Linked DNA regions of Homo sapiens. The protein of the gene in region 7 purifies or fractionates together with the protein of the main gene of each other region. This does not show direct contact. Each region holds a gene or a part of one and is shown on either strand. Other genes may lie near its edges.

What was found.
Region 1: the proteins of WASF3 (region 7) and KIAA1217 purify together in Homo sapiens (affinity purification with mass spectrometry; one large-scale study listed by BioGRID and IntAct). This does not show direct contact.
Region 2: the proteins of WASF3 (region 7) and OGFR purify together in Homo sapiens (affinity purification with mass spectrometry; one large-scale study listed by BioGRID and IntAct). This does not show direct contact.
Region 3: the proteins of WASF3 (region 7) and CMTR1 purify together in Homo sapiens (affinity purification with mass spectrometry; 2 studies listed by BioGRID and IntAct, with this or other methods). This does not show direct contact.
Region 4: the proteins of WASF3 (region 7) and FRA10AC1 purify together in Homo sapiens (affinity purification with mass spectrometry; one large-scale study listed by BioGRID and IntAct). This does not show direct contact.
Region 5: the proteins of WASF3 (region 7) and LPP purify together in Homo sapiens (affinity purification with mass spectrometry; 2 studies listed by BioGRID and IntAct, with this or other methods). This does not show direct contact.
Region 6: the proteins of WASF3 (region 7) and CENPF purify together in Homo sapiens (affinity purification with mass spectrometry; one large-scale study listed by BioGRID and IntAct). This does not show direct contact.

Annotation. Positions count from the first base shown.
Region 1 is NC_000010.11:24,544,227-24,548,272, reverse strand, and holds the end of KIAA1217 (sickle tail protein homolog), read right to left. Parts: coding exon 3,792-4,046; intron 3,293-3,791; coding exon 3,170-3,292; coding exon of another isoform or gene 3,155-3,169; exon of another isoform or gene 2,447-3,154; coding exon 1,949-2,446; 3' UTR 430-1,948; downstream 1-429. UniProt on the Homo sapiens protein: Required for normal development of intervertebral disks.
Region 2 is NC_000020.11:62,802,909-62,807,634, reverse strand, and holds the start of OGFR (opioid growth factor receptor), read right to left. Parts: upstream 2,801-4,726; 5' UTR 2,776-2,800; coding exon 2,605-2,775; intron 2,168-2,604; exon of another isoform or gene 2,048-2,167; intron 99-2,047; coding exon 30-98; intron 1-29. UniProt on the Homo sapiens protein: Receptor for opioid growth factor (OGF), also known as Met-enkephalin. Seems to be involved in growth regulation.
Region 3 is NC_000006.12:37,439,611-37,443,656, forward strand, and holds part of CMTR1 (cap-specific mRNA (nucleoside-2'-O-)-methyltransferase 1), read left to right. Parts: intron 1-4,046. UniProt on the Homo sapiens protein: S-adenosyl-L-methionine-dependent methyltransferase that mediates mRNA cap1 2'-O-ribose methylation to the 5'-cap structure of mRNAs.
Region 4 is NC_000010.11:93,681,766-93,685,811, forward strand, and holds part of FRA10AC1 (protein FRA10AC1), read right to left. Parts: intron 3,595-4,046; coding exon 3,481-3,594; intron 2,334-3,480; coding exon 2,291-2,333; intron 1-2,290. UniProt on the Homo sapiens protein: May be involved in pre-mRNA splicing.
Region 5 is NC_000003.12:188,870,686-188,874,731, reverse strand, and holds part of LPP (lipoma-preferred partner), read right to left. Parts: intron 2,090-4,046; coding exon 1,969-2,089; intron 382-1,968; coding exon 253-381; 3' UTR 1-252. UniProt on the Homo sapiens protein: May play a structural role at sites of cell adhesion in maintaining cell shape and motility. In addition to these structural functions, it may also be implicated in signaling events and activation of gene transcription.
Region 6 is NC_000001.11:214,640,828-214,644,873, reverse strand, and holds part of CENPF (centromere protein F), read right to left. Parts: coding exon 1,550-4,046; intron 318-1,549; coding exon 1-317. UniProt on the Homo sapiens protein: Required for kinetochore function and chromosome segregation in mitosis. Required for kinetochore localization of dynein, LIS1, NDE1 and NDEL1.
Region 7 is NC_000013.11:26,560,420-26,564,465, reverse strand, and holds part of WASF3 (actin-binding protein WASF3), read right to left. Parts: intron 1-4,046. UniProt on the Homo sapiens protein: Downstream effector molecules involved in the transmission of signals from tyrosine kinase receptors and small GTPases to the actin cytoskeleton. Plays a role in the regulation of cell morphology and cytoskeletal organization.

The DNA.
Region 1 (4,046 bases), on a different chromosome or scaffold from region 7:
TCTTCCCCCACACCTTTTTTTTTTTTTTTTTTTTTTGAGACAGGGTCTTGCTCTGTCATCTGGGATGGAGTGCAGTGGTGTGATCATAGCTCACTGCAGCCTCCACCTCCCAGGCTCAAGCCATCCTCCTACCTCAGCCTCCTGAGTAGCTGGGACTACAGGCACACACCACCATGCCCACCTAACTTAAATTTATTTATTTATTTTTGGTAGAGATGGGGTCTCATTATATTGCGCAGGCTGGTCTGGAACTCCTGGCCTCAAGTGATCCTCCTGCCTCAGCCTCCCAAAATGCTGAGATTACAAAGCATAAGCCACCGTGCCTGGCTTCTTCCCATTTTAACAAATGAAAACATATGGTGTAAGCGTATTTCCCTCTAGGCCAACAATAATTTTTTAAGTTGAGGACTCAAAAGAAAAAAAGCCAAGTGATAAAGACATTTTATTTCCACTTTACTTCTACTGGAAGTTTTTTAAAAAGAGAGAAAATAATAAGAGCCCCTCCAGGAACTGAGGGTGGAAACTCTGTATCCAGGTTTGCTTTCTGTCATCTACACCTTGATAAGCCACAGAGAAGAAAGCGAGCCAACAGGCCACATCCAAGGCACCACACTTGCAATTAATTTATTAGGAACTCATCATTAGTCACCCCAGAGCTTTCAGAAAAGTAGTGTCCTCTGAGTGGATGTGGTTACATCCCTCAAAGCGGAAAAACATTTAACTCGGTAACAGTTACATTTCGTTCTTTGACTAGGAAGTAGTTATAGTGACAAGGTACAAAAAATAATAAGCATGCAGCCCTTTATTTAGTTTTGCAAAGTCTCTGCTTATAGTTCTGTATATTACATGACTGTGTTATACAAATACATTTATTTACAAAAACACTCTAGCTGTGCAAACTTGTTGCTTTTTAAAAATGTATGGATACTTCCATTTCTGCCGGTCCCGATATATACTTTTAAAGCATGCATAAAAATTAACTTTGGTGTGGGAAAACTACTCTATGTGCTGTCACATACAGTATTTTTATGTCTATGTATATTTATATATTTACAAAAGTTTTTCGGTTTACAGAACCGTACAGAGTATACATTTTAAAATCCACAATGCAAGAGCGTGGGTTACCAGGTCTCAGAAAACAAAAGAAGGGGTTAGATACGCCAAAGAAAACAACTAGAGAATCTCAACATGTTAAAAAAGAAAAAAAAAAAAAAAAGGAAGGAAAAAAGAAAGAAAAGAAGCAAGCAAAGAAAACTAGCTTGCTTGGGCTAGCAAATTATTATACACACTTTTCATGGCAGTGCAATAGGTTTGATAAATTGCCTTCTACACATGCCTGTCTGTAGGGCTCATGTAGAAGTTCATTGGTTTTATAGTCTAGAACACTACTTTCAAATGTACAATGCTATAGTATCAAAATGTTTTGGCAAAAAAGATCTTGAAAGGAACCATGAAGTTTTGACAAAAATAGAAATCTGTAATAAAGCTAAATAACACTAAAATAAAAGGAAATATTATAGTATCTGTTTTACAATTTGTATAGTCACACTTGTGTAATTCTCTGTTCACTTCTAGTCTCCGTAATGAAAAATAGTTTTATACAAAACATACTAAAATTCTGGAATCATACATGTTTTATATGCTTAAGACAATTCTCCTGTCTCACACGCACCTTTCTCTCCCACCAGAACCTCTTTCTGTAACACATGCTTACTGCATTTTATAGGTATTGAGTATAGACTGTAGACACTATAGCAACTAGGTAAAAAGAAAACCAAACAAAACGAACGAGCTTTACTGAAATCTATTAATCCAGTATTTAGCACATATTTAGCATTAAGCCTCAAACGATACAGCAATATGTTACATTCTCTTGTGAAAACAGTTGTTGTAGACTGTTAATTTTTTTTAAATGTAACTCCGACTTGTGCCTAATAGGATTTGACCTTTAAGAGGTTTCTTTTGCTGTGGATGGGGTGGCTTTGCTTGAACTTCCATTCTGTGCCTTGTAGCTGGTGAGGCTGGGAGTATGGATGGTCCTGGTGCCCTTGGCACCTTGATTCAGTGAGACGGAGGAGGCAGGAGAAGGAGGGGAGGAGGAAAATGACAAAGGAGGGGGTGCTCGGCCATTTTGACTCTGCGGTGAGAATGAAAGATGGTGACCTTTACCTGTATGAGTGAGGCTCTGAAACTTCAAAGAGCCATTAGAGACAGAAGGGATGAGGGAGGCAGAGTGAGCAGGTGGTCCTGTTTGGGGGCTGAGAGGGTTAGAAGCAATCGATGGTTTAGTAGCAGGTGGATTAGGGAGGTTAGAGCTGTCACCACTAGAAGAGGGCAGAGAACTGCTTTTCCCAGAGCTGGGAGAAAGGGCTGGAATCTTAGAAGCAGGTAAGGAGGGGGAAGTAGGCTTAAAGTCCCCACCAGATTTCTTAGCACTTCCATTAGCCTGCAAATAAAGATGGCGGGAGACATTTTGTCAGAAAGGCGGTCACATGATCAACCCACAGGGCCTGGCAACACAGCCCTTCTGAGAATAATTCAATCAAAGAAAACCAACCAAACACAGTTCAAGGCCTGAGCTAAGTCTTGTTGTGCTCTACTGGACCTGGTAGAAACCCCCCATGTACATAGCAAAGGATGGACGGGAAAGGAGGAAAGGAAGAATACATTTGTGAGAGGAGTCCCATCATTCCAGCTCTACCATTTCCTGTGTGCCAGGTGGGCCATGCGTCTGGATAATTACTGGGGTGGGGGTCGGGCATTGTGACGGAGTGTTAATGTGCTTCTAACACAATACAGTCAACATAGACGTTAGTAGTGGTGACGTTAAGGGCAGTTCAACCACAGGTTGGTTTGTCTCTGCTTCCCGAGGTGTTCAGATGAAACACTACATTCACCAAAGAAAAGCCACCTGGTCTGGCACCGTGTGTTAACAGTTAAAATTTGGAGTTTGGAGTCACAAAGTAAAAGATGTTTTATTGCAAGCATGCAAAAGCGTGGTAAAAAAGTGTAACAAAGGTTTATTTAGACTTTCTTCATGCCCCCAGATCCAGGATGTCTATGTAAACCGTTATCTTACAAAGAAAGCACAATATTTGGTATAAACTAAGTCAGTGACTTGCTTAACTGAAATAGCGTCCATCCAAAAGTGGGTTTAAGGTAAAACTACCTGACGATATTGGCGGGGATCCTGCAGTTTGGACTGCTTGCCGGGTTTGTCCAGGGTTCCGGGTCTGTTCTTGGCACTCATGGGGACAGGCATCCTGCTCGTCTGTGGGGCCCCGCTGGAGCCCTGTGGGAAGGACCAGTGAGAGGGGGAAGAGAAGGAGAAGCGCATGAGTAGGTCATCTGTGAGGCTGCCCCACGATGTGCAGAGAAGCTCAAGGTGAGAAGCCACAGCCCTACATGCAGGACAGATCTAGGAGACACCAACTGGGGTTAATCAGAAGAATCAAACAGAATCAACTGCTCACTACTGATCAAACGGATTTTAATGTGAGTATCAGAGCAACCATTTCAACAGCACATGGCTGACCCAGCAGCCTCGTGTTTACCCAACACCAGTCAGCAACAGAGGCAAAAACAGAACTGATTAGCTGTTAGATACCTAGTTGTTGTTGTTTGGAAGGTGAGGGAGAAAGTATGAAAGAAGGGTTTCATGGCGAACAGACAAAAAAAAAAAAGCCACCTGAAAGAAAGCAATTAAGTTACAAGACACCTTTCACTAATGGTGATTATGGCAGATTTAGGAAAGCAGCTGGGTCTTTTCATTTTCCAGCAGACCAAGATACCTTACGTGAAGCTGAAGGTATCGACGTAGGGGGCTCTAGGGCAGTGGGACCTTCATCCGGAACTAGCAAGGGTCGGGGAGAGGCCTCTTGGGCTATGTGGGATGAACTTGCAACAGAATCTCTGTTGGAAGAACATGAGGTATCAACTAGGGCTTTGGGACTCATTTCACTGATTGTATTTTCGAGCTGTTTAATGGTCTGCTCCAGGCTATCCAATGTTCTGTAGGTGTTTTTTCTAATTTCATCAGTTCTTGA
Region 2 (4,726 bases), on a different chromosome or scaffold from region 7:
TGTGTCCCGGGGCAGGGGCAGGTACGTACCGGATAGTTGTGCCGATACCTACACATGTCCCTCGTGGCTCGCCAGTTTCTGGACCCTGTCATTCTGGACTGGGAAGAAAAGAGATGGGATTAGGACCCCCATGGGAGACCCCCAAGTGAGTCCCAACGTGGTGAGGGCTGCAGGGCCTGGGCCAGCTGCCACAGAGCTGTCTTTAAAGGGCGGGGGTTTCATGGCTCCTCCCTCTCATTCTCCTGCCCTGGCTCTTTTTTGGGGGTTCCCAGTGGGGCAGATTTGGGCCTCAGTAACGCATCCCAATACCCTGCACAGAACCAGAGAGGGCTGCGGTAGCCAGGTGGGGGGCTGCTCCTTCTCTAGGCCCCTTTGGGACTCCTGGCTTCCACCTTAGGGTGGCCCCTGGCTGACATGCACCTCCCCTGGGGTGTGGCCCTGACCCTCTCCTCCTCCTAGGCCTGCTGGCCACCTCCACCCTGGCTTTAGCCTCTGTTCTGTGCCCCTGGAGACTCCCCCTGCTTTGTACACTAAAGTCACCAGGCTGTGTTCTTGGGGGCAGTGGCCTCACCACCTGTAGCCCCAGAAGGGGACCCAGGTGCTTCTGGCAGGGTCTAATGAATGAATGCCCCTTCCCTGCCCAACCCCACGCCTCACTGGCCACGGTGAGGGCAGGCCCTGAGTCTCCAGCCTCCAGCCCTGTCTAGTGATGGCTTCTCAGCAAGATGTCAGGTCCCCTTGATGCCCCAAGCCCTTCAGCCCCCATCTCTGCAGGCCAAGCATCATGGGGCTGAGCAAAGGGCCGGAAGTACCTAGTGATGAGGATGGTGGGACACAGCCCTGACCTTGTGATGAGGGTGGGGGGCCTGGGGCTGAGCCTCACTCGGTGGGTAGGGCAGGAATGGGCGTATTTGTCCAGGGCAACAATTGGGACCCAGGATCCTGGGGGAGTGCTAGAAGGGGGGTTAGGAGGCCCGGTCAGCCACTGTATCCCCTGGCTCCCCGCTGAGCTCCAGCTGGGACCTGGCGTTGCCTCTCTGCCTGATTTTTCTTTCTTATTTTTTTCCCCTCGAGATGGAGCTTCATGCAATCTCCACCTCCCAGGCAATCTCCACTCACTGCAACCTCCACCTCCCAGGCAATCTCCACTCACTGCAACCTCCACCTCCCAGGTTTAAGCGATTCTCCTGCTTCAATCTCTGGAGGAACTGGGATTACAGGTGCCCATCACGCCTGGCTAATGTTGTATTTTTAGTAGAGACAACAGTTTCACCATGTTGGCCAGGCTAATCTTGGACTCCTGACCTCTGGTGATCCGACTGCCCAGGCCTCCGAAAGTGCTGGGATTACAGGCCTGAGCCACCGCCACCGACCTCTCGGCCTGATTTCTCAACAGGGCCGCTGGTGTGGTTCTCTCGCCCCGCCTGATCATCAGTTTCTACTTCTCCTTCCTGGGGCCAGCGGGAGCCTCCCTGGGTCAGTTCTGGAGGCTGGGTCCTGACTGGATGTGGCCACACAGTCAGCCCACAGGTGCATACATGACACTGCCCAGGAAAAAGTGAAACAGCCCCGCCAGGGTCCAGCGCAGGCAGCTGGGGAGGCCTGAGGGGTCCAAAGGGGAAGGGGAGGGGCTTGTGGACAGAAGCCACAGCAGGAGGCAGAGGGAAGAGGTCAGGGGTCACGGGCGCCTGGCAGGATGGTCAGGGCCTCTGAGCACCGCTTCAGGAGAGCGGCCTGAGGAACTCCAGTGAGGAAAGCCCGTCAAGAGCCCACCCAGGGGTCACACCGTCCTGTGGGACAGAGCCAGACCCCACCCCCCTGCCCAGCCTGCCTGGCCGCTGCCCTCCCGGCGACAGGGCGGAGCCCCTCCGTGCTCTCTCACTGCCCGCTCCACCATGGCCAGGCGCAAACGCAAACAGTGCTGGGTGCCAAGGGGAGAATCCATGCGGAGCCGTCGAGTTCCATGCACTTCCCGGCCCTCCGCAACCCGGGCAGCTCAGCTGGAAGGCCGCTCCCAGATCAATCCCAGCTCCCCGACAGGGGGGCCGGACTGCGACAGTGTGGCGTTCCCAGCGCGGCAACAAAAGTAACCCCGGCGATGACAGGCGCCCGGCGGTAACAAAAGTAACAAGCGGAGGCCCCGTCGGCCCGCCCCGGGCTCCCGCAGGTGCAGACGCGAAGCCTCCCAGGCCAGACCCGGCCCGGGCCCCAGCCCCAGCCCCAGCCCCAGCCCCAGCCCCAGGCCGCGGGGCCTGCGCAGGGGCCGCCAGGAGGCCGAGGCGCGGGCCCGAGGCGGGAGGGGTTCCATCAGGGGCGGCCACGGCGGCTGGGGGCGGGACGCGCCCGAGGCACCCCCGGGGGGAACGGCGCCCACACACGATGGGGCCCGGGAGGCTCAGCTCCGCTGTCACCCACGCGCGGCCCCCGCACTTCCCCGCCGGGCCCTGGGGCTGGGGGTCGGCCGGTCTGGGGGGGGGTCCCCGGGGCTGCGGGAGCTCCAGGAGGCTCCAGGTGTCTCCGCCCGGGATGGGGGGGTCTCCCGTCCACGCAGCCGGGCGGGGGGCGCCGGGGACCCCAGGCCTCTTCCGCGCCGCGGGGCCGCACCTGGAACGAGCTGGGCCGCGCCGCCCGCGGCTCCTCCGACTCCTCGTCCTCGTCCCCTGCGTCCGCGTCCCTCGCGCCGGCGGCCTCGCCGTCCTCGCAGTCCTCGTCCTCCGCGTCCTCCGCATCCTCCTCGTCCTCCTCCCAGGTGGAGTCGCAGTCGGGGTCGTCCATGCTCGGCGGCGGCGGGGCTCGCGCTGGAGGCGGAAGCGAAACCGAAAGCAGAGGAAGCGCGGGGGGCGGGCGGGGGGAGGGGACGGAGCGGCCCAGGCCCCGCCCGCGTCCGCGCGCAACGCCCCTCCCTCCCCGGGACGCCCGCCCCGCGCCCCTCCCTCCCCCGAGAATCCCCCAACGTCCGCCCGGGAGGATGCCCCTCGCGGAACGCCCACCCCCACCCCACGATGCCCACCCGGGAGGATTCGCCCCACCCCGTCTCGCAAGGATGCCCGCCCTAGGAGATCCTCCCTCCCGAAAATGTCCCCAAAGCCTGCCCGCCCCCCAGAGGACGGTCTCCCCGGAAGATGAGCCGGGTACCTAGGAAGGATGTCTTCCCGACGATGTCCTCCCAGCAGGATTCTCTCCCCGGAGGATGCCTGCCCCGCAGAGAATCCCCTCTTCCAGGAATATTTCTGTCCCCCAAGAGAAATCCCCCCAGAGGATGTCCCCATCAGAAGAATGTCCCTTGGAGGATAACCCCCGGAGGGGCCACGTGTCCACAGGGGCCTCTCTCCCTAAGCTGGGTGTGTAGGGGTCTCTGTCCTTCTGCTGCGGGCTGGGGGCCTTACTCAGCTCCTGGAAGCTGCTGGCGGACCCCTGTCCCTCCATAGGCAGTGCAAAGCACGGCCGTTTTCTTTTCAAAGCCACCAGGGGAGTCTTTCTCTCTAGGGTGCCGAGTCTTATATAACCAGGATGACATGGGCAAGCCGTGGCTTCCTTCACCTTTGCCGCCATCTCTCAGTTGTAAGAAGGCACTTAGGGGAGAGGACCACACGAAGCCTGGGCCACCGGGAGGGTCACCCTGGGGACTGTTCAACACAGCTGATGCCAGTTCAGCGCCTCCTCAGGGCCCTCTCTCTAAGCACTGGCAGATATGGGGCAACACAAAGTCACTTTCACCTGCCATTTCCCAGCACCGCGGGTCCCTTGCTCATCCACCTTTGACATCTGCTGGCAGATACATGGCAAGGTTGGTGACCTCTTGAAATAAAAATCAGGAGTGGCCACTCCAGATAAATTTCTTCTGTAACTGCTATACCAATTCATTTCAAAACATTTAGGTAAAACTAAATCTGGATTTTGGACTTGGCCATGAGGATAGCTCCTCGCAGAGTTGTCCCTGTAATGATGGTGGTGGAAAGGTGGAGAAGGCCCCAGCCCAGCCCCTAGGGGACACTGCCATCTCCTAGCCCTGCAGGCCTGCTGGGCCTGGGAACTGGTGACATTCCTTGTACTGTGTGCCAGGGACAGCCGTGAACGCAAGTCTTCCAATCCTGGCCACAAGTACAGGTTAAGGACCCTCTGGGTGCTGGGCCCTAATCTTTGCTGACCTGTTGACCACTGTTAGCAGGTGCAGTCTCACCTGGCTGGAACCTGTGGACATGCATCACACTTTCTTGAAACGACAGTGGTGATGCCCCGAAGTTCTGGGGCGCTGGACATTTCTGTAAATCAACTTAGTGCAGTGGCCAGGGCAGGTTTCCCAGGGAGCCTGAGTGAGCTGCCTGACCTCCTTGTTAGATGATTTACAGGTGGGATCTGGTTGCAGCATCAGAATAGACTGTGAGGTGGAGTCGGGGGGCTCTGATGGGGACATTGATGGGTGCTGGGTGGTTGTATAGGGTTTGGGTGATCTGAGACTTGGGTGGTCAGGCTGCCCCCTCCACTGCCCCAGAAAACAGAAAGACAAGCATACTGGGTGCTGACAACATTGTTCTACGGGGACAGCATTCCCGCTGCTACCTACTGTCGGCAGGACTATAGAACCACTTCCCTAAAAAGAGTATTAGAGACATTGCCCAACTTCTGTTTTACAAATATCACCACACCAAATTGCTTCTTTAGTTGCTTTTGTGTTGTGTGTGTGTGTGTGTGTGTGCAGAGCTCATCTCGGGGGCGTGCTAATCCA
Region 3 (4,046 bases), on a different chromosome or scaffold from region 7:
AGTTACCATTTGTCTGGCATGAAGGAGAAATTGAGTCTTTAAGTAGGAATGAGTTTATTTCACCACAGTCGTTAAGCAGGATGTGATGTTTATTAAAATTCATAATTTATTTTTCTGTATCTGTGTGCTGCCCACCTTGGCCATTAGCGGTTGGAGCTGCCCCTCTTTGTTGTCACTGTCATTTTTTAAACATAGTATATGTATTCTTTTTCTTTTTTTAGTGACAGGGTTTCACTATGTTGCCCACACTGGCCATGAACTCTTGAGCTCAGGTGATCTTCCTACCTCAGCCTCCCAAGTAGCTGGGACTACAGGCACATGCCACTGTGCCCAGCTTGTCACTGCCAATTTTAATCTTGGCATGTTTGTCCCATTGCTGTATTGCCATGTGAAAAATTTTGCCAACAGCCAGGAGACCTCTGTTTCCTCTGTAAAGTTGAATCTTTCTTCCTTGTAATGACTTAATAGTGATTTCTATCAAGTGGAGAAGAAATCTTAAAACCGTACATACTGTTTTGGGCTCTCTGGTAGGTTTTAGGAGGGGAGCTCCCCAGGAGGTAAATGGGAATGCCATCCAGCTTTGGCAAATTCTTATTGAAACTAATGAGTTTAATAGACTGACCTTATTACTCCTATTTACAACCTCATTACAAAATTATCTGCTCAATGTTTGCTAAATTCTTTATCGGTCTTGAGAAGCTAAGCCTCCTGTTTAGTTCCTGCTGCAGCCGTGACAATTGTCTCCCTTTCATATGAAAAGAGTAGCCTCAAAGGCCCCTGAGTAAGAATAAGTAGTGGCTGTGGCAGTCTGTGGACATCAGGAATAATCTAGGGAACTTTGGCTTAAAGCATGTCAAGCTAAGAAGTGGTCTCCTATACCACGTGAATAAAAGAAAAAAATAAGACTTATTTGCTTATCTAGCACACTTCTTGATCTTACAAGGAATTGCCTAGTAGGGTGATATTTTACTCCCATTAACCTCACTCTTAGAACCTGGAAAGGATAATGTACATTAGGTAACACCTTGGGAGGAAGAGTAGGAGGGAAAAATCTTTGTGCCAAAGTCTGGTACTGGAATTTTACACCAGAGTCACCACTGATTTGCTTAGTGAGCCTTCCACTCAAATTTGGTTCTCCCTGTCATTTTTGCCCAGAGATATTCTGAAGACAGAAGGAAACAAAAGATCTCTCTTTGAGATCTTAGGGTGGCAGGAACCCTGTGTGCCCAGGAATGTTATTTGTACTATCTCCGTGCTCATTGTTGGGCCCTCAGGCAAATCTAACAGCCTGGCAACTCTTTAGAGCTGGAGCAAGGGCATACCCTCCTTTGAGAAGGATACCGGGTTTTCAGACTTTTTCATAGGTAGACCTATGAATGTCCAGATTGCTGGTGAAAGGAGTAGCAACTGATTTAGCATTGTAGCTTGTGATTAGTCAGGGCCCTGGATCCCTGGGCTGCCCAAGAGGAACTTTAGGGCTCTGCTTAGGGAGCTGCCCACATTCCTGGTACCACCTGTTTCTGTATTAAGTAGTACAGGTTGAAGGCATGAAAGCAACTGAGTGAAGAGAATCCATACCTTTGGAAGTGCAGTTCTTTAGCATGTGGGCACTCTGTTGCAGAGTGCATCTCTCTCCTCTGCATGGGAGAATAGATGAGAGGCCCTAGAACGGTCTTGAGCCATTTAGAAGGCCTTTCCCCTCAGATTTGCTGCTCTTGGAAGATTTCTCTGGAAAGGAACCAACCTCTTCCCAAGGCTTGGAGTGTTAATCTATTTATTTATAGCTTTTTTTACCCTAATTTTCTTTTTCTTTTTTTTTTTGAGACAGAGTTTAGCTCTTGTTGCCCAGGCTGGAGTGCAATGGCTCGATCTCGGCTCACCGCAATCTCCACCTCCTGGGTTCAAGTGAATCTCCTACCTCAGCCTCCCGAGTAGCTGAGATTATAGGCATGTGCCACCACGCCTGGCTAATTTTGTATTTTTAGTAGAGACAGGGTTTCTCCATTTGGGTCAGGCTGGTCTTGAACTCCTGACCTCAGGTGATCCGCCCGCCTCGCCTCCCAAATGTTGGGATTACAGGTGTGAGCTACCGTGCCTGGACCTTGATTTTCAAACTAATACATTCTTGTGTCTCACAAATGCAGAAAATGCAGGAAAATGCAAAACAAAAGAAATATCAGTTCACCTCTCAGTTTCCATGGTTACTCATTCTTAGTGGTCTGGGTTTTCTGAGTGGCACTCTCTGGCACTCTGTGACGTTTGCCAGATTGGTTCATGTAAGCAAGTCAACTCGATTAAGAGAATTGGACAGCCACCATAAAGGGAAGGGCAGATTTTGTGCCTCTCATACAGGGACATTCTCAACCAAAATTTATCCTTGCTAACTTATTAGAAGCCAGAATTTTGGTTTTAAGTTTATTCTTTCACACATGTTCACCTGTCTTTTCTTTCTTTTGTAAAATGTTGTATCCTTGAAAATGCATATTAACCTTATCTATTAGATTTTTAAGCTCTCTAAGGGTTGTTACTTTTGCACAGTACCCCATTATATGTAGCATGATCTTTTATAGAATAGGTGCTGAACCAGTATAGTAGTCTGATCTTTTAAACGGTATCAGTGTTCTGAACTATGACAGATGTCCTAATTCAACCTACTGGTGGGGAAGCTAAATCATAGCCCAGGAGGGCTCCGTTCTCTGTTAAGATATAGAGATCCCATTCTCATCCTTAAACTTCTGAGGCCTGAACAGCTTGCACTATTTGTAAGAGGAAATGTCTCAAGGAGTCATATACTCTGTAGGTCCTTAGGAAAGTGATACTTGGCTGACACATCTTTACATTTACTACAGTAATCATTTAATTAATTTCTATTAAATGGAAAGCCTCAGTCCAGGTGTTGGGTACAGACTGTGACATAGTTCCTGCTCTCCAGGAGTGACCCTGTCCAATGGGGACAGCAAGTGGCAAACAATAACTGGCTCTAAGGCAATGTGATGAGTGCTGTGCCAATGACACTGGTGTTACTGGAGCACAGTGGAAGGGATAATCAGTTAGGCCTGGAGTGCTGGGGAAAGCTTTGTTCTTCTTGAATGTCAACCCTTAGCAGGTTTTGGTTCTGGTAGGGAAATGGATGGATCACTTAAGATTGGCTTCAGAATTATAATGTATTCTTCAAGTTAGAAATACCTGAATAGTGACCACCTCGGGTCTATTAAAAAATGTTTTACACACTGCCGTCTGTGACTTTCCTTCAGTACTTCTCACAAGCAGCCAAGTTTTGAATCAACACCCTTTCTGAGTGGTGTCCCTTCTTCTTCAAAGGAATTATGCCACATTGCTAAGTCAATATTTTCATATTTATTTTAAATTTTAATAGATAATATATTCACATGGTTCATAAGTCAAAAAATATAAAAAGATAGCCAGTGTAAACTTTCGTGGTATAAAAATGTAAATCAAGTTTCACTTTTGCTTTCACTAGTTCCAAGTAATTGTTTTGGTATTCTGTCTCCAAATGCTAACCCCTGAATGTGTGAATAATCACTTTTATTGGTCTTCTTGTATATCGTTCCTTCCAAAAGCTCTTTTTGCAATTATAAGAAATAAAAATGTTAGCCTTATAATGGAATCGTTGAAAATGGAATCAGGCATCAGTGTTTGGATATTGATGTTCTAATAATAACCACCAGCAGCAGAAATAACAATCATATCTTCAGTAAATACACTTTATATTTGACAATGTACTTTCTTTTTTTTTTTTTGAGATGGAGTCTCACTCTTTTTGCCCAGACTGGCATGCAGTGGCGCAATTTCGGCTCACTGCAACTTCTGCCTCCCGGGTTCAAGCAATTCTCCTGCCTCAGCCTCCCAAGTAGCTTGGATTACAGGCACGCACTACCACACCCAGCTAATTTTTGTATTTTTATTAGAGATAGGGTTTCACCATGTTGGCCAGGCTGATCTTGAACTCCTGACCTCAAGTGATCCGCCCACCTCAGCGTCCTCCTGGAGTACTGGGATTACGCGTGAGCCACCATGCCCAGCCA
Region 4 (4,046 bases), on a different chromosome or scaffold from region 7:
TTAATTAAAATCATTCTATAAGATAATGAAGTCTTAACACTGACACAAATAATTACTTTCTATAAGTTCTGTATACGACCATAGTAAATACAAATTATAATTGTATTTGTTTCTTTCTTTCTATATTCTATCACTTAGCCATTTAAAACTAAATTACAAAAAAAAGCCTCATTTCCCTTCACATAATCCATATCCACCTACATGTTAAAAAAACACAAAGAAGAAGAAACTGCTGAACAGCTCTAAGCCACCAGTAAATAGAAATTTCTACTCTTAAGAATAAAGGAATATAGTAGAAGCATAATGGAATGAAAATGGAAAGGGCTTATTGTTAATTCATATATCAACATCAGGCCACTTATAATTTATACTCTTATTGTTGCAGCTTTATCTCTTCTAGAGCAGGTTTACAAGGTTGGCAAACAATTAATTAATTTTAATAGGTTAAGAAAAGAAATACTAAATGGGAAAAAGTGATAATGCTGAAATTGGGACTGGCAAGGAGAATAGAGACAAAGGAAAAGATTACTTTCAAAAAACTTGTTCAGTAGATTTTCCAAGTTAAAGTACATCTACTAAATGCTATAATAGTATTTAATGCATTAACCACTTTTGCATATTTTGTAAGAATCATTTCCATTTTGAAATGAAGCTCAAAAGTCAAGGTCAAAACAAATCCCTGCTTTCTTTCAGTATCACTGATGGGAAGGGGAAATAAAGGTTTAGGCTATTCCAGTAATCCAAAAAAGTTCTGGCCAAGTGTGGAGGCTTATGCCTATCATCCCAGCACCTTGGGCGGCTGAGGCAGGAGGACTGCTTGAGTCCAGGAGTTTGAGACCAGCCTGGGCAACATAGGGAAACACCATCTCTACAAAAACTTTAAAAAAAAATTATCCAGGTTTGGTGATGTACTCCTGTAGTCTCAGCTATTCTGGAGGCTGAGGTGTGAGGATCACTTGAGCCCAGGAGGCTGAGGCTGCAATGAGCCATGATCACACCACTGTGCTTCAGCCTAGGCAACAGAGTGAGACCTTGTCTCAAAAAAATAAAGAATAATGAAAATAATAAAAATAATCCTGCTAATTTTAAGAATTAAAAATATTATTTAACATTTATTTTTAACAGCTAAAATACTATATAGGCACATTTATAACAAAGCTGTTATTTTTTGACAACCCATGTGATTAAAAAAAAGAAAGCTATTTTAAAATTAATATGCTTATGTATACATTTTATAAAGTTGCAAAAGCTGAACTTTTAACTGTTATCCAGCGCATAAAACCTGACCATCACAAAGGCAAGTTGCGAAGAATCAGTGTGAACATCTTTAATGCCAGGTACTGTGGCAAGCACTTTACATGCACTTTCATTTATTCCCCACAATAGCCTGAGTAGCCTCATTTTTACAGGTGATAAAATTAAGCCTTACAGAGGTTAAGCAGTTTGCCCAAGAAGAAGCCTAGTAAGCGGAGAAGCTGAGATTAAAAACTGAGGTCTGATTTCAAACCCCATAACTGCAGGACACTGGTATTCCCACACATTCAATGTGGCAGATACATTAAAGCTCATTCAATAAAAGCCTGATTTTAACTTTTTTTTTTTTTGAGACAGAGTTTTGCTCTGTTGCTAGGCTGGAATGCAGTGGCTCAATCTTGGCTCACTGCAACCTCTGCCTCCCAGGTTCAAGCAATTCTCCTGCCTCAGCCTCCCCAGTAGCTGGGATTACAGGCACCTGCCACCACGCCCAGTTAATTTCTGTATTTTCAGTAGAGACAGGGTTTTACCATGTTGGCCAGGCTGGTCTCGAACTTCTGACCTCAAGTGATCCACCCAAACTGGCCTCCCCAAGTGCTAGGATTACAGGCATGAGCCACCGCGCCTGTTCTTGATTTTAACATTTAAAATGAGTATAGAGGTGTCTAATCCTTTGTAAGAATGGCAAACTCCAGCTAAAACACTGTCTAAATGAGACACAAGAACTGCTTTATGAAGTCTGCTTTACAACATAATTTCTAATATTAAAGTGTCAGAACATTGGCTCCAAACTAAAAATTCTAACATCCATCTACCACCTCACATAGGCCTTTACATTTAAAACTGCTTGGCAAGAATAGGGCATAGCGGACTTCTAAACCCCTCGTTTATGTAGCCATACGACAATGCCACATTTTCTACATGATCAACCAATTCAACCATCAACCACCTAAGTCTACATTTAGATACTTAGTGCAGGTAAATGACTATATCCTGGATTACTAAACATTAAGAATGGCATTTTAAAAGACATTACCTGTGATGGAAATTTAATTTAATGGAACATTCTTGGCATAACCCTAAAAAGAAAAGACACCACTGAATGGCTGATTTTGAATAACCACACTGCTAATCTACTTTTAATATCATAAATTCGCACTTTCTTTATATTCCATTACTATAAGAGGGTAAACAAACAATCCAAAGAAAACAATCTGACCTTCATCACCTCAAAAATGCAAATATATACACACATACATATAATAAAAATATTAGCTTGAGGAATTGAAAATAACACTATTTTAGAAAAATGTGTTGTCAATTTGTTCCAAAAACAAACTGTGTTCCACAGGCACATTAACATGTGTCTCACATCAAAGATATCTAATAATAATGTGAGTATAGTCATTTCCTCTGAAGTGCTCTAAGAACTTTCAAATGCAAAGGAGCTTTTCAAATAGTTCCATAATTGTGGTCTCTTTTTTTTTTTTTTTTTGCCTTAATCTCAGTTCACACTGGCTGACTTTTCCTCTTGAGCACTTCCAGAAGGAACTCAGAAATCAGTCTGTATTGACATGCATACGTAGCATGTGGGGACATTCTTGACTTTTATTAGGTATGAGCAGAAAACTCTGAAGGCACATTTACTTAGGACCCAGAGAAGGCTAGAGGAACAGCTGACACATGAAGACTAACTTAAAAAATAAATAAAAGAATGACAGACTCTAAAACATGCATCCTAAGGGAAACTGCTGTATTCTGGAGTATTTATTCCCTATGGTTTTAAGACTGAGGTCAAGAACAATTATGCCTTCCTAAAGTTTTTCTTTATTAATACTGTGAAACAGAGTGAATTTGTTTATTATCTGTGCTACAACGATATCACTGAGTAATCAGCTAATGTGAGATTACACTGCCTTTTCTGATACTGTGCCTCTTAGCTATGTAATGTGGTGGCATTCTCAAGTTAATGGGGACGGAGCCCCACTCTACAAATTACCAGTTTACATTTGACATTAGAATTCTTTTTACTGAAACACCACTGTAATGCTAAAAATGTAAAAAACTGAGGCTGAAAAGTTCTTTGAGACTTTGGGAAGCTCCAAGAAAAAAGAGCACTTCCAGAAAGATATGTTAAAAATTGCATTTGAATTTTAAAGTCTATATATTTTTAAATTAAAGACAAACTTGGAAGAATCAATCATATACCCCCTAAAATCAACTTACTTAATTTAACAAGTGCATTTCTCTTCTCACCATGCTCAATATAACCAAAATTAACTTCCCAACTCTTTAAGCCTTCTTTTTTATCACAATATTTATTTCCACAGAAAAATTGACCTGCAGAAAGGAAAGGAATATTAGCTATGGTAGTTGGTGATAATATTTATCTATATGATCTAGTATTACCCCTAAAATGTACTTCTAAAATATGCAAATTAACCATAGTCAGCCTTTAAAAACTGACCAGAGTAATATGTTCAACCAACTTGTATACAAGTATCAAATCAAAGTACTGTTACCAAAAAAAATCAGTCACAGAATTCTTGCTTGATAGACTGTATTTAGATAGACATTTTAGCGACTCCCTATTAGGGAATCTTACACTTTGGAAAGACAGTATTAAAGAATGGACATATTTCTCAGAAAGTTGGTTTAAGGAAAAACAAATAAAAAAACAAAAACAAAAAAAACAACATACTCACAAATACCCCCCCCAAAAAAAAACGCACTTTCCAAAGTACACACACTTATAGCTGGGTGAAACCTTTCAATATTTAATGGTAATAATA
Region 5 (4,046 bases), on a different chromosome or scaffold from region 7:
GGAGCATAATCTGTGCAAAAATGTGGAAGTCCTTGGGAACAAAGGCCCATCAAGATCCTACATGATTCAATGTGAAATGTGTATTTGGTAACAACTTTTAAAAAAAATCTCATAATTTATGTGTTTCTAAGGCAAGGTTAATAGCAGATGAAGAACAGAGACTATCGCGTAGTTTGATGGCCTTTACTCTAGTATTTCTTATCTTTTTCTTGTGTTCGTTCTTCTCAGTGCCGGCTGAACAGGTGACTGAATCTAAAGGTCAGTGCTCGCCTTGGCGGTCAACACCCTGATGCGGGCAGAGTTGCAGGTCTTGCAGAGGATGTGCCCATCCAAGGGGTAGCAGCCTTGGTTATCTCCTTCAGACAGGAGACCACCGCAATCCTAGAACAGTAAAGACAGATGGAAACGACATAAGTAAAAACGTTAAGTACACATGTGGAGAACATCATGATTGAGCTTTCTATTCAAGGCCTCCATAATGTGGCCACTTACTATCCTTCCTGCTTTACATTCTGCTAATCCCCTGTATCCTTTCTCCCAATATATAACATAGTATATCTTGAATGTAATTGAATTAGAGATTGGGGACATAAATATAAATGGACATAAATATAATCCTCCTAAGCTCACTTGATATGAAATACAGGTATAAGAAGAGAAGAGGCCACCCATCTTGGCTCCCATGTAGAAGTTTGCTGCCCCCACTCAACAAGAGAAAATAAGAATGTCCCTAACCACCGATGCATTTTTTACCCTTTACCATTAGTTTAAGGATCTCTCAAAATGCATGCACAGGTACAGGAATGGAATGTTTTGGCCATTTCTGGCCTAGAGCAAAGGTAGACTGATGTCTGCCAAGCAGAAGGGCCACCAGTGGGTTCGGTGTATTTACTTCAACTGCAGTAAGAAAATAAAATCCTAAAGTTTGTGGGGAGTAGTGGTTTGCTGTACTTTCTAAAGGAGACAGCATTGTGGAGAGCAAAGATTGCTAGTCCAGGGGACAGGCCTCCTGAGCACCACCCACAGTTTTGCTACAGTCTGCCTCAATGCACACAGGCCGACTGCCACTCTGAAAATAACTTCTGCCTTTTCTACCTTACCAAGCTGTTAAGAGGATCAAAGAAGATAATGGATCAAAAAAAAAAATGCAAAGAACTGCATAACTGTAAAGGAATATACTACCGCTGACAGCTCCTCTTAGGGTCCATTTTGAAAAGTGTTATATAACAGTTAAATGCTGGCCTTTGTCTTTGGAGAAAATAGAAGTTTCTTTGGAAAATAAATACATAGTACTTCATCAAGAGGTGTGTGTTTGCTAACTTTAGTATAAACTCTCAAAGGCCACAACAGCTATGAACCTCGCCTCTGCTATCTACCATGGTGGCAAGGAGGTCAATGGAGTTCATGTCTTCATTTGACATAGAATGAAATTTAAGTTAACGGGGTATCCAGAACACAATAGCAGCAATGGTTATACTCTGCGGGAAGTTTGGCTTTACTGAAAAGAACATGCAGATATACTGCAGCTCTAGAGGCGTTCAGGAAACTGAGCAATTAGTAGTGCATGCTAACAAATAAATAAATCTCCATGACTCTGAACAAGAAGTTCTAACCAAAGCCTCAGAGCCAAAGTTAAATGTTCAATAACACCATTTCTCACTAATTTAGTATTTCACAATTTACAATGTCCTTTAATATACAATTTTGTATTTCACTCTCACAGCCATATTTGGAGGAGTTAAGGACTTGAGTCCTTTCTTCCGGTGAGCAAGCAGACTGAGAGAGGTACAGTGACTTATTCAACAGCATGTGCTCGGAATACTAGTGTCAAATCTAAAACCCAAGTCCTATGAGTACAGGCACTAAGGCCGTTCTGAGATTTAGTAATTGCTACATCTATGTAAACCTAGCTCGAACGAGCCTTTCAACGCCTGCCACAGACTGGCAGGGCAGGGCTGTCAACCAGACCTCGCATCGGTAGCAGTGAACATGGAAATCTCGATCCAAAGCCACAATACGGACAGTCTCCTCCTGGCCCGGGGCTGGCATAATAGGCTCCTTGCACACAGAACATCGCGGGGCAAATTTCCTGAAAGTGAAGAGAGAGTTCTGGTTAGATACTGCGCGTCGACACTGAGGTGGGACGCAGAGGTAAAAGGAAGAGGTGGAAACTGAGAGTCGGTATACCTGCTTCCTCATCCGTAAGGTGAGGGAGTTAGACTCAGGGACTGTGGAGGTTCTTCCATCAATCGGTGGTAAATATTGTGATATTTGGCGAGGTGAGAGAGTGAGCGTGTGAATTGCTTGGGCATGAAGAGCATCTAGCATCTCTTTCCTGCATGGTGCGCGGTATGAAATTCATCTTTAGATAGATTCTGAATGCAAACCCTGTGCTTGGGATAGGCTAACTGGAGGAGAGAACAAAGTCCTGTCCAGCCCCTATTTGTTTCTGACTTTTGTTTCTAGACTTTTGTATGCACTCCTTAGGTCCTAGAAAAATAGTCTGAGGTTGGTATCTTTGCCTTGTTCCCACCTTTTAGAGCTTCTTTCTTGGAAATTTGCCTTGACTTCTAGGAACTGACATAAGAAGACTCAAATACATAGCTTTTCAAAAGGGCAGAGGTTAGTGCGTTTAAATATACATTACACAAAACTTAAAAGTGGCCAAGTCTGCATTTCCTACATTTTTTATTGTGTTAAACTTTTGCTTAAAAATTAAAAGTTAAAGAGCTATCAAATTCTTTATTCTTTAAAGGATTTTAGCACTGTTAAAGGGTGAGTGTATACTAACACACATACACATACATATACATATAAATATGCATATGCATATGTTTTTGAGGCTGCTGGTAAATACTTTTAATACTTATTAATTTCTTAGTATTTCTCAATATGATCAATGGTACCTAACAATTTTTTTTCTATGACAGGTTAATTGGCTGAAAATATAAGCCATGTATCTCTCTGTATCTTCTGGAAATTGGAGATGGTATTTGTGAAGGTATGAAATGACATATTATTTGAAATGGACCTGGATAAGAACTGAAGAGATTTAAAAAAAGAAAAACAGACTGTGACTCAGTTTTTTCATGGTACTGGTTTTAAGATAAACGATGTTAAAAATTTATCTATTTGTAGTGAGACTTAAAAAGAAATAATGATAATAATCTAACTCTTTGCAGAGCACGTTACGGTTGTCAAAGCATTTCTACATACATTATATTCTATATGTAGGTAATTAATTTTCCTGGCAGCACCCAAAAAGCATCTGTATGGCTGCAATCTAAATAAATATGAATTAAGCAGCAGATCAATTGATTGCTGTGAAAGAAAAGTTAGAAGGATCATGGTACCACTGCAGCAGTAATCAGAGTTGTTATAATTGGTATTTTATGCAAGAAGTTTATATTCAGTGGCAAAAAATTGCTTTGGACTACCAGATTATTTTTAAATCTGGGTCATCAGTGGTGAAATAAGTAGGCTTCTGGGATCAACTGCAAAATTTCCTTTCCCCAAACTCTGTGGGAGCAGAAGTATGTTTTCCTTTTCAGTGTATCCATAAGCCTTCTCCAATTTCCCCAAATAGAATTATTTACTCCTCTAAGATAAGAATTCTGTCATTGAATTTATCCATTTTGGTAGTAATTATTTGGATATATTTATGGGGCACTAAACTCTAAGTTTCCACAAGATAGGACTTTGCTCCATCTCTGAGTCTCCAGGAACAACCACTGTGACTGGTGCAGAAAAAAAAAGTTGGGCTGTATCTAATGAAATGAATCTGCCATATTTCTGTATAAAAAAAGATATTAGTTGGGCTTTATGTTCAATCTCAAGGTTCTTCCTCTTTGGGAAGACATAAACTGTATTCTTGCTGAGTAATGATTCTTTCCTACCAATTGGCCTCATTTCCATAATGAGAAAAACCAAAGCGAAGAGGCAGGAGGTGGTTCTCATAGTCCCCACAGTGTTCCTCCGATAGCAATTCGAGGAGGGCTCACAATCCCAGGTGGTCTATTTCAAGGCTTAGCTCACTGAGTGGACAA
Region 6 (4,046 bases), on a different chromosome or scaffold from region 7:
TCTTCCTGATTCCCCAGGAAATCCATAGGTACCAAAGCATTAGGACCAGAAAATGACAATTCAGAAATGCATTCTGAAGAGCCCTGGGTTTTATCTTCCCCTGGAGGCTCATAATTGGTATCTGGGGACTGTTCCCCAGAGCACTCTCCTGTGGGTTTCACTGCACCAGTCTCAGTTATTTTCTCAATGTCTAGATTGAGGTCCTGCTGAGCATCTTTATCACAAATCTGATGAACATCATGCTTTGGTGTTCTTTCTGTAGTTTCTGAAGTATGTTCTTTTGATATGTCACAGCTCTCATTTCGGCCTTGAATAGCCTGTAATTATAATACATAACAAGCATGCATTTTATTTTTCAAAAAGAATCAAAATAGAATAGATTTAGTTATTACTTTTTAGAAACTGATGCGTGGCCTCTGCTAAACACATCTCTTAAAGTGGTGAATTTCCCACTACATCTTTCTCTCTTCATTCAAATGTTCAACATACTTATACGTTCAGTAAGTGGCCCCTATGGGCAAGACACTGGGGTTAGGCATTTATCTTGAAGACAAACCCTTCGGCTCAATTACAATTTGTAATGTATTTAAATTTCATATTTTTCCCTTGCTAAGAATATTCAGGTAGCCTAAATATGAAATCTCTTTGTAATTATTAAATAAGAGGCTAACAAAATGCTCAGCTTCCACCTTCAGCATTTATGATACTCTTTAATAAGGCAGTAAAGTTTCATAACCAGATTCCCAGTCCAAGGACTTAATCCCCAATCCAGCACTTACTGTACATTATTGGATAAATTACATATTTGAGCCTCACTTTCCTCTCATCTGTAAACTGGGGATCTGCTGTTGCACCTACACCTGCCATCACCTCACCATGACCTGCCTTCTCTACCTCACAGAGATAGACAGAGGAAATCAAGTGACATGCATACACTATATAGCATTATTAATTAAGCTAGCAGGCTAGAAAGGACAAAGTTACAAGCAATTAAACAAATATGTATTCAATTTTTTAAAAGCCCTTTTAAATGACTTATACCAAATCATATTTTTGTACCACAGTAAATTGTTAGAGAGAAAACTGTTTAGTAATACATAAAGAATCTGCTGTATTTAGTTTCATGACGATAATGCCATAACATCAAAAATAGTCTGAAAAGTGGGAGAGATTAAAAATTTACATATTACCATTTGTAAGTTCTTAATTATTTCAGTATACTTTATTAATGCACAAAGGGTGGAAACACACATTCTAAAGACTTTCTGACTCCATAATATAATTTTCTCCAGACTTTAAAAACATCTTTAGTAATATTCTATATAATGCTATGTAAATCTAATCCCTATAGAAATTTATTCCTCAAATAACGTTTACTCATTTTCCTCAAGTTCTGGTTTGTTTTGAAAATATTTTGGTGTATTTTATTTCCTTGAACCCTAAAAATATTTTAACTTAGGTTTAATGTACATTTCAATTAGACAAACATTTACTGAGTGTCCACTAGTCATGTAAACCGAGAAATGGCATTTAAATCCCAGGTACTTACATCTTCTGTGTCGATGCCAAGCAAAGACCGAGAACTTAAGTCCAGACCTTGTAGCTGGAGTCGTGCTACTTCCAGCTCAAGTGACAGTTGTTCCGTCTGTTTCTTTTCTGCCGCCAACTTGGACTCCATCTCCAGAGTCACGCTTGTCAGCTTCTGTTGCCACTGTTCATTTTCTGACAAATACTGCTTCCTAAGGCAGTCAAGCTCTTGCCTTTCAGAACTTAATAACTGCTCGAGCTCTTGAATTTCCTTATTTTTCATAATCCCTTGACTTTCCATTTTCTCTTCTAGCTTCTCGAGGGACTGCCGGTACACCTCACAGAGGGACTCAAGCTCTTCAACACCCTTCGCTGGGGCCGAAGGGGTTTCTTTCCTGGTCAGATTCTCCTCCTGCAGACTGCTGCAAAATACTTCATCTACACTGCACTGGTTTGCTGAAACAGCCCCTTCTAAATTACTCAAAAGAGACATATCTCCTGTCTGTTCTAAAAGAGCTCTGTAAAAGGAGGAGTCTCCCAAACTGCTAAGACTAGAGCTGTCAGGCACACAAGAGGATGACAGGGATGGAACGAGCCCCTCCTCCAAGCCCAGCTGCATCTCCTTCACCAAGTCACCTTGAAAGTTTCTCAGATTCGTTGACAAGACCAAATTTTCGGCCTTTAATGAGTCAACATAGGTCTGCAGCTCTGACATTTTAGAGCTCATCTGACAGTGCTGATCATGTAAAATTTTGTGTTCACTTTGTAAAGATAAGAATTTCTCTTGCAATTCGGCAAAGTGCATTTGAACTTCTTTGTCTGACAATGTCAAGTGCTCGTAGGAATTACTCTCGTCCAATGGAGCCAAAGACACAGGGTGCTGTTCATTTGGTTGTTCACCAAATTCACCTCCTGGTATGTCTTCCACTAACTCACCATGGAGAAGACCACTGTCATCATTTAATATTTTAACTTCATTTAGTAGTTTCCCTACCTCTTCTGCCATTTTCCTAGTTGCTGTGATACATTCTGACCTTGAATCATTCAGCTCAGTTACGAGTTCATACTTTTCAGCCTGCAGTATTTCACATATTTTCTCTAGCTCATTCAGCTTGTTCATTGTTGTTTGCAGAGAGCACTGAAGGTGTGCATTGTCGTTTTGACTTGTTGACAACTCATGAGGCCCTGAAATATACTTTTCTTCCGCATCTATTTCACAGTCTTTAAGGCCACTAATTTCTTGTGACTGCATGTCTTGCAAATTGCTGGTTTCAAGATCTCCTCTAATTGTCTGTAATTCATGCTGCAGGCACTCCTTCTCCTTCTCACTTTCCTGAAGTTTTAATTCCTTATTTCTTAGCATAGCTTCTAATTGCACCAACTGCGCATTATAACTATCTAGAGAAATTTCTTTAACTTCAAGATCCATCTGAGGTTTAAAATTACATTGATTTCTCTCACTCTCTCTTTCTTTCACAGAGTTCCTAATTGGTTCTGATTCTAGATTTTGACATTCATGTTTAGTCTTCATTACCTTCATCAGCTGTTCATTCTCTTGTAATAAGTCATTAACTTCCTTTTGCATTTTGTTTTGTTCTTCCTTTAAAGTCATGATTTCTTGCTTTAAACCACCAGCCTCGCTCTTAGAATTGTTTTGGTTATCTGTCATCTCAGATCTCAGAGCTTGCTGCACTGTCTCCAACTCTAGCATCAGATTCTGATTTCTTTCTTCAGCAAATGCTAATTTTGTTAAGAATTCTTGGTGTTCCTTTGCAAATGCTTCCTTTAGCTGTTCCAACTCATTTTTCCTATTTTCACAAAGACTAGTGCATTCATTTAGCAAGCATTCTAATTTAGAATTCTTTTCCTGTGCTGCTTTGTATTTTTGACTAAGATCCTCATATGCATTTCCGGTTTCTTCACATCTTTGTAGTAAAATAAGTTTTTCTTGCTTGTACTGATCAGATAACTCTGAAATGCTTTTCTCCCTTTCATCTATATAGTTTGCAAAACTCTCACTTTTCTGGATTAAGTTCATCTTCTCTTGATTTAAGGATGCATTAATTTCCTTAAGAGTCCCATTCTCTTGGGTCAGCTCTTCAATTTCCCTTTTATTTAGAGAAATGATGGAACTCATTTCTTTCTTCTCCAAGCTTAGGGTTTCGGATAAAAGTTGTAGCTCCTTTAGAGAGTCTTCAAGTAGATGGTTGCTCTTTTTTAATTCTTGAATCTCTGCCTGCTCAGTTTCTACCTTATCATTTAAAAGTTGCAGCTCTTTTTCCTTGTTCTCAAGGGCACTTAAGGTTTCAGCAACAACATTCTGGTGAGCAGAAGTGTCTTCCTGTAACTTACTAATGCGCTGACTTGTTTCAGCCACAAAACTTTGATGCATCTGTTCTGCTTTCATGAGATTTTCTTCTATTTCTCCTTTGATTTGCACCAACTCTTCACACTGCTTTTGCAGGTCTGAGTTCATCTGTTTTTGAGACTCTAATGAAAATTCAAGTGAATCAACTCTA
Region 7 (4,046 bases):
CTGCTAGAAAACAAGCATTCCAAGATCAAAGATCACAAAGGCTGTGAGAGGACAGCCAGTGGGAGAAGGCACCAAGTGTTACCACAGTGAAATAAGTGCAAAACCTAAATGAAGGTCTCTATATGACGACGACGTTCAAGAGGTTATCTGACAAGCTGGAACACACATATGCTATGCACAGATTATATACAAGGCACCACCCTATGTGGTTCCTGCCAACAAGGAGTTTGTGAACTAGTTAGCAAGATAATCTATCCTGTTTTACCTCACTTGAATATAAGCTTTCTGAGGGCAGCAGCTTGGTCATGTTAAACATTCTTATCACTGCTAACTAGAACAGTGCCTCAGACATAGTTGGCATACAAACATGTGTGGGCTGACTTAAGTATTTAAGGAAAAACTAAAAGGAAGAAAAGATTAAAATACCAAAAAGGTTCAAGAACATATAACACAACAGAAGATATCTTTAGATCAATTTCAAGACCACTGCTCCAAGGTCAGAGGGCACCCTGAGAAAAGATCCCAGGGAAATTTCAGAAAGTACAAAGTTGAGAAATCATCCCAGATGCTGAGCTCAGAGCCAAGGCCTAGAAGCTCCAGGAGACCTAAAAGATGAGAAATACCCTAGAATGTCTGTGATGTTTAAAATGTTTTAAAATTTAAAAAAAAAAAAAGTCAGAAGAGCTAATCTCCCAGAGAAGAGGCACATGTGCAGGCACAGAGAAGAAACAGAAGCATCTTTGGCTCCAAAGATTAAGGCTGAAATCTAAGTATGGAAAAACTATTCTTTTTTTTTTTTTTTTTTTTTTTTGAGATGGAGTCTCACTCTGTTGCCCAGGCTGGAGTACAGTGGCACGATCTCAGCTCACTGCAACCTCTGCCTCCCGGGTTCAAGCAATTCTCCTGCCTCACCCTCCCTAGAAGCTGGGAGTACAGGTGTGTGCCACTACAACTGGCTAATTTTTGTATTTTTAGTAGAGACAGGGTTTTGCCATGTTGGCCATGCTGTTCTCGAACTCCTGACCTGAGGTGATCAGCCTCCCAAAGTGCTGGGATTACAGGTGTTAGCCACCACACCAGGCATTAGTGCGGAAAAATTATTATAATCTATAAACATCTATGACATCGGGGGCGGTGCAACACTTTGGGAGGCCAAGGTGGGAGGACTGCTTGAGCCCAGGAGTTCAAGACCAGCTTGGGCAACATAGCAAAACACCATCTCTACAAAAAATAAAAATAAAAACATCTATGAAGATAGGCGGATAGGATCTGACACAAAACTGGTGCTGAGGTAAGTAGCAGAAAAAACACTGACAGGAGAGAGTATTCTGTCAGAACAGGACAGCAAAGGAGGACAGTCAGCCACAAAGACATCACGACCTGGAGACACAATGGCACCTAGGAAAAGTCCAGGGTGGGAAGCAACCGCCCTGCAAAGGAACAACCAGTCCTCAGAAGAGCATGTCTTGAGAAAGGAAGACAAAAGGTGTTCTTAAGACAACAGCAAAAAAAAGAGAAAATAAAGTCACTGCTAGAAAGAAAAGAAAAGAAAAGAGAAAAGAAAAGAAAAGGGAGGGAGGCGAAGGGGAAGGGAGGGAGGAGGGGAGGAGAGGGGAGGGGAGGGGAGGAAATCAGCCTACACCAGATGCCCCTCTCCAGTTAATGTCATTCTCTCCTCTTCATAATCAAGTTTGGGAAAGAACCAGCTTCCCTCCCTCAACACCCTTCACTCTGCAATCCACAGCAATGAGGTTCCACAGACTCCTCACCAAGATCATTCATCATGTCCTCAGGCTAACTCCAATGGAAACTCTGAAACCGCTATCTAGTGGGCTAACTCCAATGGAAACTCTGAAATTACCCTCTCCTGGTTCTTTACCAGCATTTAAACATGCTCAAATCCCCCCATTTAAAAAACAAAAACCAAAGGGTTCCCCCTTTATCTGCCCTCCCTATAACCACCCCTAACCACCAGCATCAAATTTCTTGAGCATTGCTGTCTACACATGCTGGGCTCCACTCCCTCACTCTCACTCACTATTAAATCCTGATACAAACTGGCCTCCCCCTCCCATCCCTGTCATGTCACTGTTGCCTCTAGTGTCCCCTGTATTACTAACAGCTCGCAGCAGCTGAGCACGCCCTGCCTGCTGAGGTTTCCTCGGACACCATGACCCCCATCCTTCTTAGTCCCAGTGTGGGAGCCTATTATCTGCTTCCCTTTCAAACACAAGAGTGCCTCAGATCTCACTCCACACCACTCCTTTTCTTACTCTATACACACTCCTCAAATGACCTCATCTACTCCAACAGCTTCCATTAACAAATACTGCACAGGCAAAGGCAGGAGTTCCAAAACTTTCTCTGTTCACCGCACCCTTGGAGTCTCAGGCCAAAACAAATGCTTATTGAGCAAAGAAAATGTTAAAAACGTAAGTACTTAATGTCCTAACAACTTGGTACCAACTTGAAAAAAGTACACTTTAATAGAGAGAAAAAATGGCATTTTTATTTCATTCTTAGATAACCACAAGTATTTACTAATACAGTATGTGTACACTTGTTGAGCACTGCACAATTTCTCTCAAACCTTGGAGTCAGACTGGACAATGGCCTCCCTCATTTCCTTTTCTACACTGATTTTCACGTGCTACAGCAACCACCAAAAATCCTTCTTTACAAACATGAGGTCATCGAATGGAATGGAGTGCAATCTAATCTAGACATTTTTAACTATCTTGAGCTAGTAGTTTCCACAGGCTTGAAGAGACGGAACTATGTGTTTTCCTCAACAATGTGAAACATCCCCCAGTCTCCCTGTTTGCTGTAGCACCTTAGCTGATAGTTTGGGAAACTCTCAAACTGTTTGAGACAGTCTGGGACAGCTAATAACTCTCACATGCGTCTCTCTAATCCAGACAACTCCTGATTATCTGGATCCCTAGTGCAGCCAACTGAACACACTGTCCCCTCAGCACCTGAAACTTAACCCAGCCAAGTGTGACCCATAATCTTTTCCCCAAAATGGATGCTGCTCTGTCCCCACCTAAGGACAGTGCCATCACCCAACCACCCAGCCAGAGCTGGACACTGCCCTGAACTCCTCCCTGCCCCAACTCCCCCCACCACATACACACACACGGCCAATGACCAAATCCCAGCAATTCTACCTCCTCAAATTTCCCTGCTTCAAGCCTTCCCTCTTCTAATCCATTCTCCAAAGGGCAAATTTGACCGTGTCCCTCTTTTGCTTACAATTCTTCAACCATTTCCTGTTGCCCACAGAGGTCTCCGAACTCCACACAACAGTAATCACAAGACCCCACAAGGCACAGTCCCTCCTTACTTCTCCTCCCTCACTTCTTGCCACTTCCCTGCCCTTGCCCACAACCACCCCCACTGGACTGAACTCCTGGTGTTTGTGGTTGCTCCAGTGCATCACCTCCCTGACCATCTCTCTGTACACCCTCTCCTCAACCCAGACTTCGACCAATTCCTTCTCATGGTGCTTCCTCTGGGAGGCTTTCCTGTCTCTCTGAACGTCCCTAAGCTTGGGTTTATGGTCCTCCTCTGAGCTCTTGTTGCTGGCCCCTTTCAGATCCCATATCAAACAATACATTGTAACCAACGGTTAAAACTCTTTGAGACTGAACTGCACAGCAAGCTCATCGGGGGCTGACAGAGGTATCTGTCTTGTTTATCTCTGTATCCCCGGCACATATTAAAACTCTGAAGTGTACTGAATGAATAAAGCAAATGAATGAATGGATTAGGTCATGCATGAGGCTCCTACATCCCTCACTGATTACTGACTCTATCATGGTACTTATCACACTGCACTGTAATTGCTTGTCCTGGTAGACTATGAACATCTTGAAAGCGTCTGTCTCTTATTTTTGCAACCCTAGTGATTAAAATAGTACCTGGTACCTAGTAGGCATTCATGAAATGGTTTTTTTAACATACAGGGTTATATATTTCATCTACAGTATTAAATGGAAAAAATCCAGAAGGATACACCCTATATTATGGTTACCTCTGAAGAA